Linked DNA regions of Homo sapiens: region 1 is linked to region 2. Evidence: fine-mapped expression QTL. A gene starts in region 2. The other region holds a variant in brackets. All regions are shown on one strand. Distances are between the middles of the regions.

What was found. PIP is the estimated chance that this variant, and not a neighbour inherited with it, causes the effect.
Region 1: its variant is fine-mapped to the expression of MFSD6 in whole blood (INTERVAL, PIP 0.99).

The regions. Positions count from the first base shown.
Region 1 is chr2:190,383,318-190,388,694 of GRCh38, reverse strand. No RefSeq gene overlaps it. Among named protein-coding and RNA genes, the nearest start is that of MFSD6, 22 kb to the left of the region's middle. The variant A/G (reference allele first, on the strand shown) is at 3,143.
Region 2 is chr2:190,406,145-190,411,521 of GRCh38, reverse strand. It overlaps MFSD6 (major facilitator superfamily domain containing 6), which reads right to left and starts at 3,167. Exons shown (of 8, transcript NM_017694.4): 1 at 3,019-3,167. RefSeq lists a silencer at 2,547-3,586 and an enhancer at 3,847-3,896.

The DNA of each region.
Region 1 (5,377 bases), 23 kb after region 2:
GTATCTACTTTGTGATTTACACTGTTCTAAGTGCTGGGAACACAGCCATATATAAAACAGACAAGGTCTCTACTCTCATCAAGTTTATATTCCAGAGAATATATATAACTTGTAGCCCAAATGTTACTTTTTTCTAAATGAAATGTTGTATCAACTTTTATATCACTGTTTTCCCTAGTTATAAAAGTAATTCTTGCTTATTGCAAACAAACAACAACCATAATAGAGAAAATGAAGATACTTTTGTAGGCCCTCCCTTTGGCATAATTACTGTGAGTAGTTTGTTGTATATACTTAGATTTTTAAAAATATTTTTTAAATTTACAAACTGGATCACTCTTCTATAAATTGCTTTTTTCACTTAGCAACACAGTATACCATGTATATCTTTTCATCCCAATGCATCTAGATCTAACTCCTCTTTCTTATTGGCTGTATAATATAGCATTATATTTAGACATTTTATTTCAACCATTCTTCTATCGATGATCATCAAGGTTATTTCCTGTTTCTTCATTATGATTAGTGCTCAGTATTTTGCTTAAAAAATCTTTACCTAGCCCAAGACATTTGCAAATTCATATTGAGGGACTTAGAGACAGAGAAAGAGAACTCCTGCTTGCAGCTGCCTCACTGGCCTGGTGAGACAGAAATTGGAGTTTAGGGACTTTGAGCAGCCAACATCGAAGGGCTTCAGATCTCAGAGAAAAGGGGAATGTAGAGCAGGAGCTTGGTGCTCTGCCTGCAGTTTCACTGCCTACCTGTTATTCTTTCAAATCCTTTTTTGTGGGGGATGGGGTCGAGCAGGAAGAAGGCCTTGAATGCCAAGCTAAAGCCTAGGAGCTAGCAGAAAGTCACCAGAGTTATTAGGGAAACAAGGGCCTAAGAATCAGTTCTACAATGTTGGCATTGGAAGGGCCTCTTGTGACTATCTTACTAATGAAGAGACTGTAACACAGAGAGTTGTGCCCCACCTACAGCCATATATCATCCACGGCAGCAGAACCCCTAATGTAGGCTTCCTTAAACGACTGCCGATGCTCAAAGCCCTGCTGGCAGTGGGTGTGTGTGTCTTAGTATGTTTCTGCTGCTATAACAAAATACCTAACACCAGGTAATTTGCAAAAAAGAAAATTTATTTCTCACAGTTTTGGAAGCTGAGAATTTCAAGATCAAGGCACCAGTAGATTTGGTGTCTGGTGAGGGTGGTGCTCTGTTTCCAAGATGGTGCTTTGTTGCTGCATCCTCACATGGAGGAAGATAGAAGGGCAAAAAGGCAAAAAGGGCCTACCTGGTTTCCTTGAGCCCTTGACTTTTTTTTTTTGAGATGGAATCTCACTGTGTCACCTAGGCTGGAGTGCAGTGGTGAGATCGTGGCTCACTGCAACCTCTGCCTCCCGGGTTCAAGCGATTCTCCTACCTCAGCCTCCCGAATAGCTGGGATTACAGGTGCGTGCCACCACACCTGGCTAATTTTTGTATTTTAATAGAGACAGGGTCTCACCAGGTTGGCCAAGCTAGTCTCGAACTCCTGACCTCAAATGATCCACCCGCTTTGGCCTCCGAAAGTGCTGGGATTACAGGCATGAGCCACCGCACCTGGCTCCTTGACTCCTTTTCTGAGGGCACTAATCCCACTCATGAGGGCAGAGCTATCATAACTCCTTAAAACCTCTTAAAAACCCTGCCTCTTAATATTGTCACTTTGGGGTTTAAGTTCCAACATATGAATTTTGGAGGGACGCATACATTCAGACTGTAGCAGTGTACTAGCATGGGTCAGAGGCAAGAAGAGGTCTTGCCAAAGTGGTGATGTGGAAGTTGAAATGAAGAAAAAATGTTGAAAGTCAGGAAATGGGGAGAGAGCAGGGAGAAAGCCCCTACATGAGAACAGAACTTCAGAATTTTTCCTCAGGGAAGAATATAAAGGGGAGATCTATGATCAGAAAACCATAATACTGGAGTCTAACTGGGAGCCAGGGTGAGGGGGAGAGGGAAGATGATTACTTTGGGACCTGTTGTGTTCCATGGACTGGCAAGACATGGAGGTGGAAATGGCCAGTGGGCAGTTGGAAATGTGGGTTTGGAGTTGAAAAGAGAGATTAGGGCTTTTTCCTATTCCAATTTATGCCTTCCTTCCTTTCTTCCTTTTATAAATTTGGGGATCAAATATATAGTCATAGTTGAAGCTGCAGAAATAGATGGTATCTTTAGGTGAAAATGCATAAAGAATGTATATATTTTTAAGTATACATATTAGGCCTGGCATAGTGACTCACGCCTGTAATCCCAGCACTTTGGGTGGCTGAGGTAGGTGGATCACCTGAAGTAAGGGGTTCAACACCAGCCTGGCCAACATGGCGAAACACTATCTCTACTACAAAATATAAAAATTAGCCAGGCATGTTAATGTGTACCTGTAATCCCAGCTACTCAGGAGGCTGAGGCATGAGAATCGCTTGAACCCAGGAGGCAGAGGTTGCAGTGAGCCGAGGTCACGCCACTGCACTCCAGCCTGGGCAACAGAGCGAGACACTGTCTCAAAAAATAAAATAAAATAAAATAAAATAAAATAAAATAAAATAAAATAAAATAAAATAAAATAAAATAAAATAAAATAAAATAAAAGTATACATATTTGAATTTTACAGCTGGGAGTGGAAGCTCATGCCTGTAATCCCAGCACTTTGGGAGGCCGAAGCAGGCGGATTGCTTGAGCCAAGGAGTTCAAGACCCGCCTGGCCAACACGGCGAAACCTCATCTCTACAAAAAATATTTAAAAATTAGTGAGGTGTGGTGGCATGCACCTGTAGTCCCAGGTACTTGGGATGCTGAGGTGGGAGGATTGCTTGAGGCTACAATGATTACATCACTGTTCTCCAGCCTGGGTGACAGAGCAAGACACTGTCTCAAAAATAATTTTATACTTAAAAAATTTAATATAGGGTATCTGATTCATCATGAATACTAGATATCACGGCTGGAATCCCAGAAAAAAAGGTCATCTAGATTTTACTTAAATGTGTCTAATATCTGTAGGATTAACAGCAGTTAGAATGTGGCTCATTGTGTGGCTGGACAGCTCAAATCCTTCGAAAGCTTCTTGAAGTTCAAACTTCTATTGAGTTCACACTTCTCTAT[A/G]ATGTTTCTCACTGACTGTAAAATACAACTATTTAAACTTTTTTCTACTTTGCATCATAAAATCATACAAGTCAAGTAACACAGTGGCCTTCACTAATTACATACAATTGGCCAACTAATCTCATCAGCATATGATTAGTTCTAAAGAAAGCAATAGAGTATTAAAACAACCTGATTTACCTTTTTTACGTATTAGATTTTGAAAGACTGATATCATCTAGTGTTGGCAAGGATATAAGTAACGAGCATTCTCATCCTCTGTTGATGAGAGGTTGTTTTGTTTTGCTGCTATGTTGTCCAGGCTGGTAACTCCTGGGTTCAAGTGATCCTCTTGCCTCAGCCTCCCAAAGTGCTGAGATTACAAGCATGAGTCACCACACCCGACTGATGAAGGGTTAATTGGTGTACCTTTTCTAGAGGGCCCTTTGTCAATAGGTACCCACATTTAAAATGTACATATTTGATCTAGCAGTTTTACCTCTAAACATTTATCTTGGCCAGGCACAGTGGCTCATGCCTGTAATCCCAGCACTTTGGAAGGCCAAGGCAGGCATATCACCTGAGGTCAAGAGTTTCAGACCAGACTGGCCAACACAGTGAAACCTCGTCTCTACTAAAAATACAAAAATTAGCTGGGCATGGTGGCAGTCACCTGTAATTGCAGCTACTTGGGAGGCTGAGGCAGGAGAATCGCCTGAACCCTGGAGTCGGAGGTTGCAGTGAGCCAAGATTGTGCCACTGCACTCCAGCCTGGGCGACAGAGCAAGACTCCATCTCAAAAAACAAAAACACAAATAAAAACATTTATCTTAATGAAACAGAGAATTGTTCAAGTATGTACATTATCAAGCATGTTCATTGGCTCTTTATTTCTTGTAAACTTTTGAATTGATTTAATTATTCTTCTAGACACAAGTCCTTCATCAGATATGTATTACAAATATCTTCTGCCATTCTGTGGTTTGAATCTTTATTCTTTTACTCATAGAAGAAAAACAATTCTAGGAACATTGGCTAAAATGTTCTCAGTAGCTATGCTTGAATGTTGGATTTTTCTCCTCCTTTTTACTTCTCCATATTTTTCCAGTTTTTTAAGGATTATTTAATGACAATTTAAAACACAATAAAGGGAACGAATTGGTTAAGGAAGATGGTTTATTTAAAATGATGCAAGCTGGGCGCCGTGGCTCATGCCTGTAATCCCAGCACTTTGGGAGGCCAAAGTGGGTGGGTCACTTGAGATCAGGAGTTCGAGACCAGCCTTGCCAACATGGTGAAACCCCGTCTCTACTAAAAATACAAAAATTAACCGGATGTGGTGGTGGGCACCTGTAATTCCAGCTACACGGGAGGCTGAAGCAGGAGAGTCTCTTGAACCTGGGAGGTGGCAGTTGCAGTGAGCCAACAGAGATCACACCACTGCACTCTAGCGTGGGCAACAGACCAAGACTTTGTCTCAAAAAAAAAAAAAAAAGGGTCGGGCGTGGTGGCTTACACCTGTGTAGTCCCATCATTTTGGGAGGCCGAGGCAGGCAGATCACAAGGTCAAGAGATCGAGACCATCCTGGCCAACATGGTGAAACCTCTTCTCTACTAAAAATACACAAAAAATTAGCCGGGCATGGTGGCACGTGCCTGTAGTCCCAGCTACTCGGGAGGCTGAGGCAGAGAATCACTTGAACCTGGGAGGTGGCAGTTGCAGTGAGCCAACAGAGATCACACCACTGCACTCTAGCGGGGGCAACAGACCAAGACTTTGTCTCAAAAAAAAAAAAAAGGGTCGGGCGTGGTGGCTTACACCTGTGTAGTCCCATCATTTTGGGAGGCCGAGGCAGGCAGATCACAAGGTCAAGAGATCGAGACCATCCTGGCCAACATGGTGAAACCTCTTCTCTACTAAAAATACACAAAAAATTAGCCGGGCATGGTGGCACGTGCCTGTAGTCCCAGCTACTCGGGAGGCTGAGGCAGAGAATCACTTGAACCTGGGAGGTGGAGGTTGCAGTGAGCCCAGATCACACCACTGCACTCCAGCCTGGGTGACAGAGTGAGACTCTGTCTCAAAAAAAAAAAGAAGAAAAAAAAAATGCCGGGCGCGGTCTCACACCTATAATCCTTGCACTTTGGGAAGCCTACGTGGGTGGACTGCCTGAACTCAGGAGTTCCAGACCAGCCTGGTCAACTTGGTGAAACCCAATCTCTACTAAAAATACAAAAAATTAGCCGGGCGTGGTA
Region 2 (5,377 bases):
AGGTAAAAAGCAAAAACATCCTCTTTTCTCCATCTTGTCTCACTTCCTGAAGATAGCCACTGTCGGCTGGGCGCAGTGGCTCATGCCTGTAATCCCAGCACTTTGGGAGGCCTAGGCAGGGGAATCATGAGGTCAGGAGATGGAGACCATCCTGGCCAACATGATGAAACCCCGTCTCTACTAAAAAAATAAAAATTAGCTGAGCCTGGTGGCATGTGCCTGTAATCCCAGCTACTCGGGAGGCTGAGGCAGGAGAATAGTTTGAACCCAGGAGGCAGAGGTTGCAGTAGGCCGAGATCGAGCCACTGCACTCCAGCCTGGTGACAGAGCGAGACTCTGTCTGAAAAAAAAAAAAAAAAACTACTGTCAACAGTTTGGGGACAAAAAGGCGTATGTGTGCCTGTATGCAGGTTTAAACAAATGTATATAAATTTCTTCTGAAGCTAGTTTTTTTTTTTCTTTTTTTTGAGATAGAGTCTCGCTCTGTTGCCCAGGCTGGAGTGCAGTGGCGCGATCTCGGCTCACTGCAACCTCCACCTCCCGGATTCAAGCAATTCTCTACCTCAGCCCCCTGAGTAGCTGGGATTCCAGGCGCCCGCCACCACGCTCAGCTAATTTTTGTATTTTTATTACAGGTGGGATTTCACCATCTTGGCCAGGCTGGTCTTGAACTCCTGACTTCGTGATCCACCTGCCTCGGCCTCCCAAAGTGCTGGGATTACAGGCATGAGCCACCTTGCCCAGCCATTTTTTTCATTTAATATACAGCATCTTGATTTTTCAGCCAATGTGCAAAATAGCTAGCAGACACACATTTTTTGCATTTCTTCCTTTCCCTATAATGAGATTGCCAAATTAAGATTTGCTGTCAAAGGAAGTAAAACAAAGAAACCTGTCAGCTTCATACTGCCTTCAATCTACAACTGGTGAGGACAAAAGGGTAAACATACACACATTAATATACATACGTAATAAATATATAAATTATCCTACATGGCTAAATGTTAACATAAGTAATACATGTACATTGAAATCAAGTTAATTTTCAAAGGCACGAAGCTAAGGAAGACATCTGCGTAGGTGGAGAGACTTAATAGGTTCTGATTAGGGAGGGACACCATGTGGAAATTTCCTGGGCTTTGGAGCCAGAAACATGAGGTCAAATTTAACTCTACCTCTTACTGATTATGTGGTTTGTGTAAGTTGCTTAACCCTTCTGAGCTTCCTTTTTGTCATGCACAGAACTAGGGGAAAGATTTATCTTACAGAGATTGAGATACTAAATGTTTACAATGGTGTCTTGAACATAATAAGTACCCAAAAAAATGCCTTAATACTGTTAATAGTCCAGACACTATATATGATGGAATTGGTGATCCAATACTCACACCACCAAATACCTGTGAACTCTGCTTTTTGTCTTTGTGTTTTATTTGCCTTCACGCTTTTATATTTATTTGTATAGAGATGGAAAGTGCCTTAGAAATAAACTGCTGTAAACATGAAGGACACACAACTACTTAGTAGCTTTAATGCATTATTGAAGTGATGTTCTCTCCTCCTGTTTCCCCAGAGCATCCTGCACTGGGCTCATTAACAATGTCCCATCCTTCCCCTAAGCAATCCTAAATTTTACTTACACCTCGTGATAAATACAAGCCATCTGACTATCACTAAACAGCTGACCATATCCTGCACCTCTGCTAGCAGCTTGACGTGTCAAAAGCCAAGCTTCCCAAAGAGGAGGATCCTATCCTTTTACTTAACAAGGCTAAAACAGATGCATACACTTTTAGCTGGCTAGTGCCCACATCTTGGGGAAAGGACCTACCAAGTACACATCTCCTTTTATTACATATTTTAGTCAACTGTATGTCCACCCACCCTTCACATTCATCTATACTTAAGAGGTTAGATTTCTAGAAAATCATGGACTTCTAGAAGGATTAGGGGAAATTTTGGCCACTATAATATCCAACCATCCTCTTTTCCATGTGAGAAAACTGGGGCTCAGGAAGATGTGACATGCCCAAGCACACACATCTATTTAAATACCAGTTGGGATTAGAACCCCAACTCTTTAAGTCTTTTGCACACTAATAAGCAAGGTATTATATGTTCCAGTAGTTCTGTGAGGTGCTTATTCAATCTTTTTGGGATGAAAAGAAACGTCCGTGGTTGCGAATGCATAAAGGTAATTAACCCACCTGTCTGTCCATGTGGGGATGGGATTAACGAGGGGGAAAGTTGCGTTTGTATTTTTCCACCATCTTACCTAAATTTGCAGGAAAATTGCTCTATGGGCAATAAATATGACCCAGAAAGACTAGCAACCCCCAGTAGTATCTCAAAAGGGCTCCAGAGACATGTTAGACCAAGTGGAAGTAAAGCACGAGGTGGGGGATGTCTGCTAGGATGGTGGCTGGCAGAGCAGAGGTATTTTTTTTTCCGTATTTATTAACCTGGGAGGGCAGACGTTGTCAATTTCCTCCTCCTGCCACACAAGTGGCCGCGTCCTTGTCACTGGGGCTGTGTGGAGGTTCTCACCTCCTCCTTTTTCCCAGGGATGTTTATGGCGAGGGCGCGGGTCGGCCCGGGCGGAGGAGGACCCGGGCATCGGCGCTCACCCTCCGTCCCCACCCGCGGCAGCAGCTGTGGGCGCCCGGCGAGGGCTCCCTGGGCAGCGCCTTTGTTTTCCCGACTCCAGTTACGTTTGCGGAAGTGCTGCCAGCACGGGGCGCGCTGGGGGCGCAGGCGGCAGCCTCCCCCAGCACCCCACAAAGATGACACCCGACACGGAAGCCGGGGGAGGGAGGGAGGGAGGGAGCGGCGGGCGAGCGAGGCCCGAGCGGAGACAGCGGCGCACGCTGGGCTCCGAGCCCCGGCCCCGAAGCCCCTTTCCCGGCAGCAGGTGTGCGCGGCTGAGGTGCCTACCCGCCCTCCGGCTGGGCCCGTGCGGGGCGGGGGAGGCCAGGGCGGGTCTGCGAGCCCCTTCTCCGCAAGCCGGGCCCGACTCACCTGCTGCGGCGGCGGCAGCGCTCAGCTGCGCGGGGCGCGGGGAGCCCTGTCCCCGGAGCACGGGGCGGCGGCTCGGGGCGCCGGGGCGGCGGCTGTCGGGGCAGCGCGCACCATCCCGGGCTGCTCGCGCGCTCCTCCGGGGCTGCGACGGGCTGGGCGGGGCGCGGCGAGGCGAGGCGAGGGATGCGGACCGGGTGGGGCCACGGAGGACGGAGGCGGAGGGCCCAGCGCTCCCGCCGGCGCGACCTTCTCTCCCGCTGCGGCTCCTCCTCCTCCCCGGCCCCGGCCTCACAGTCGCCGCCGCCGGTCACTACCGGCTGGACCCGTTTCAGGGCCGGGCGCTGAGGACCGGCCGCCAGGTGCAGCGCTCCGCCTCCTGCGGCGGCGGCGGATGCGTCGACTGCCCGCTCCCGGCCTCCAGCCCGCCCCGGCGGCCCGGAGGGACACCTGAACCCAGCCGGGCCCGGGGAGCACGCTGAGGAGGCGAAAGCACTGGGCGAGGCTCCATCCCTACCGCACCCTCCACCCCCCCGCACCCCCAAGCGACTTCCGCTGAGCCCCCAGGCAATGAGTGCGGGCCAGGAAATGTGGGGGAAAATGTACTAACATCCCTTATTCCTTGAGCGCCTTTTAAGTGGCACACACAATGCTAATGCTGTCAGTGCGTTATCTCCGCGTCTGTCCCAGGTTGACCCGGGAGGGAGGAGCCGGCGGGGTGCGGGAGACAAACGATCTGTGAGTTTCGGGGCTCACCAAGAAGGGGGAACACTGAGACGAAGGCACCCTTTTTCAGGAAGCTGCTACTGGCATCTTGCTGAAAAGCCAACCGTGTGTGTCGCACTAAGAATATAATTAAAGTTGTATTTCTAGTTAAACACGCAGAGAGTTGGGGGAGAGTGGAGTATTCACTTGGCAAGTATGTCTGTGTGCCTGTGATGGGCTTTGGGGGATGCCACATCCTGTTCTTAAGGAGTTTATTGTCTTGTTCTGGCAACAACGACAAGAGTGACAATGGTAGCTAACGGCAACAACGACAAGAGTGACAATGGTAGCTAACGCTTATAAACATCGATTATGTACGGGGCACTGTGTAGGTACTCTTTGAGCCTTATAACCCTATAGGTGTAGGAAACGTTATTCCCATTTTACAACTGAGGAAAGCCGAGGCTGAAAGTTAATGTGACCCATCCAAAGTTACTAAACAGCGAAAGGGAAAGCAGGCTTCTTTTGTCTCCAGGCTTTAAGCTCTTAACCGTGAAATCATACTGGTAAGAATTTGATAGGCCCTGAAGTTTCTGAATTTTGAGTCCCTCTTTAGGAAGAATAAAACAATTACAAATACGAAGTTTCTAGGGCCCCTTCCTGAGCTTATGAAGGGTCTCTGAAGCTTAAACTATAGTAGCCTCATGCTAAATCCACTTTCAATATTGACGTAGATATTCAATCATTTCTTTCTCCAGGCATTTCTTTCTCCTGTCAGGAACACGAGACACTGGTCCCCTCCTTGAAACTCTTCCCTTCTCTTCTTTTGGTGCTCCGTAAGTGTTGGATTTTCCTCCTTGAAACTCTCCCCTCCTCTGCCTTCTGTGACCCACAAGTCTTGGGTTTTCCTCTTCCTCTCTGGCCACTCCCCTTTGCTCCACTTGAGTTTTAGTTTTCCTTGGGTTTTGTTCTAGGCTTTCCTTTCTTCTGATTCTGTTTGTTTCTGCGAATTCTCTCACTCCTTGGCTTCAATCACAGAATATTTGAGGGTGCTCCAAAAGCCCTCTCTCGGGGTCAGCTTTTCTCCTGAGGGCCAGATCCTTATGGCCAGTTGTCCAGTGGGATGTGTCACAGGCACCCCAACCTCACTAAGTGCCACGTCAATGTTTCTTTACCTTCTGTTCTTCCCCTACTCGTTTTTTTTTTTTAAGATGGAGTCTCACTCTGTCGCCCAGGCCGGATTGCAGTGGCGTGATCTCAGCTCACTGCAACCTCTGCCTCCCGGGTTCAAGTGATTCTCCTACCTCAGCCTCCTGAATAGCTGGGATTACAGGCATGTGCCACCATGTCTGGCTAATTTTTGTATTTTTAGTAGAGATGGGGTCTCACCGTGTTGGCCAAGCTGGTCTCAAACTCCTGACCTCAAATGATCCCCCCACTTCAGCCTCCCAAAGTACTGGGATTACAGGTGTGAGCCACTGCACCCGGCCCCTCATTCACTCTTGCTTCTGGGTTCCCAGACTCTGGGGTCCCAAACAGCCATCCACCCAGTTGTACAAGGCCCTTCTTCTCAATGCTCCTTTCACCCTTATACCCATGCCCAGTGTATTAGTTACCTATTGCTGCTGTAACAAGTTATCGTAAACTTTGTGGATTA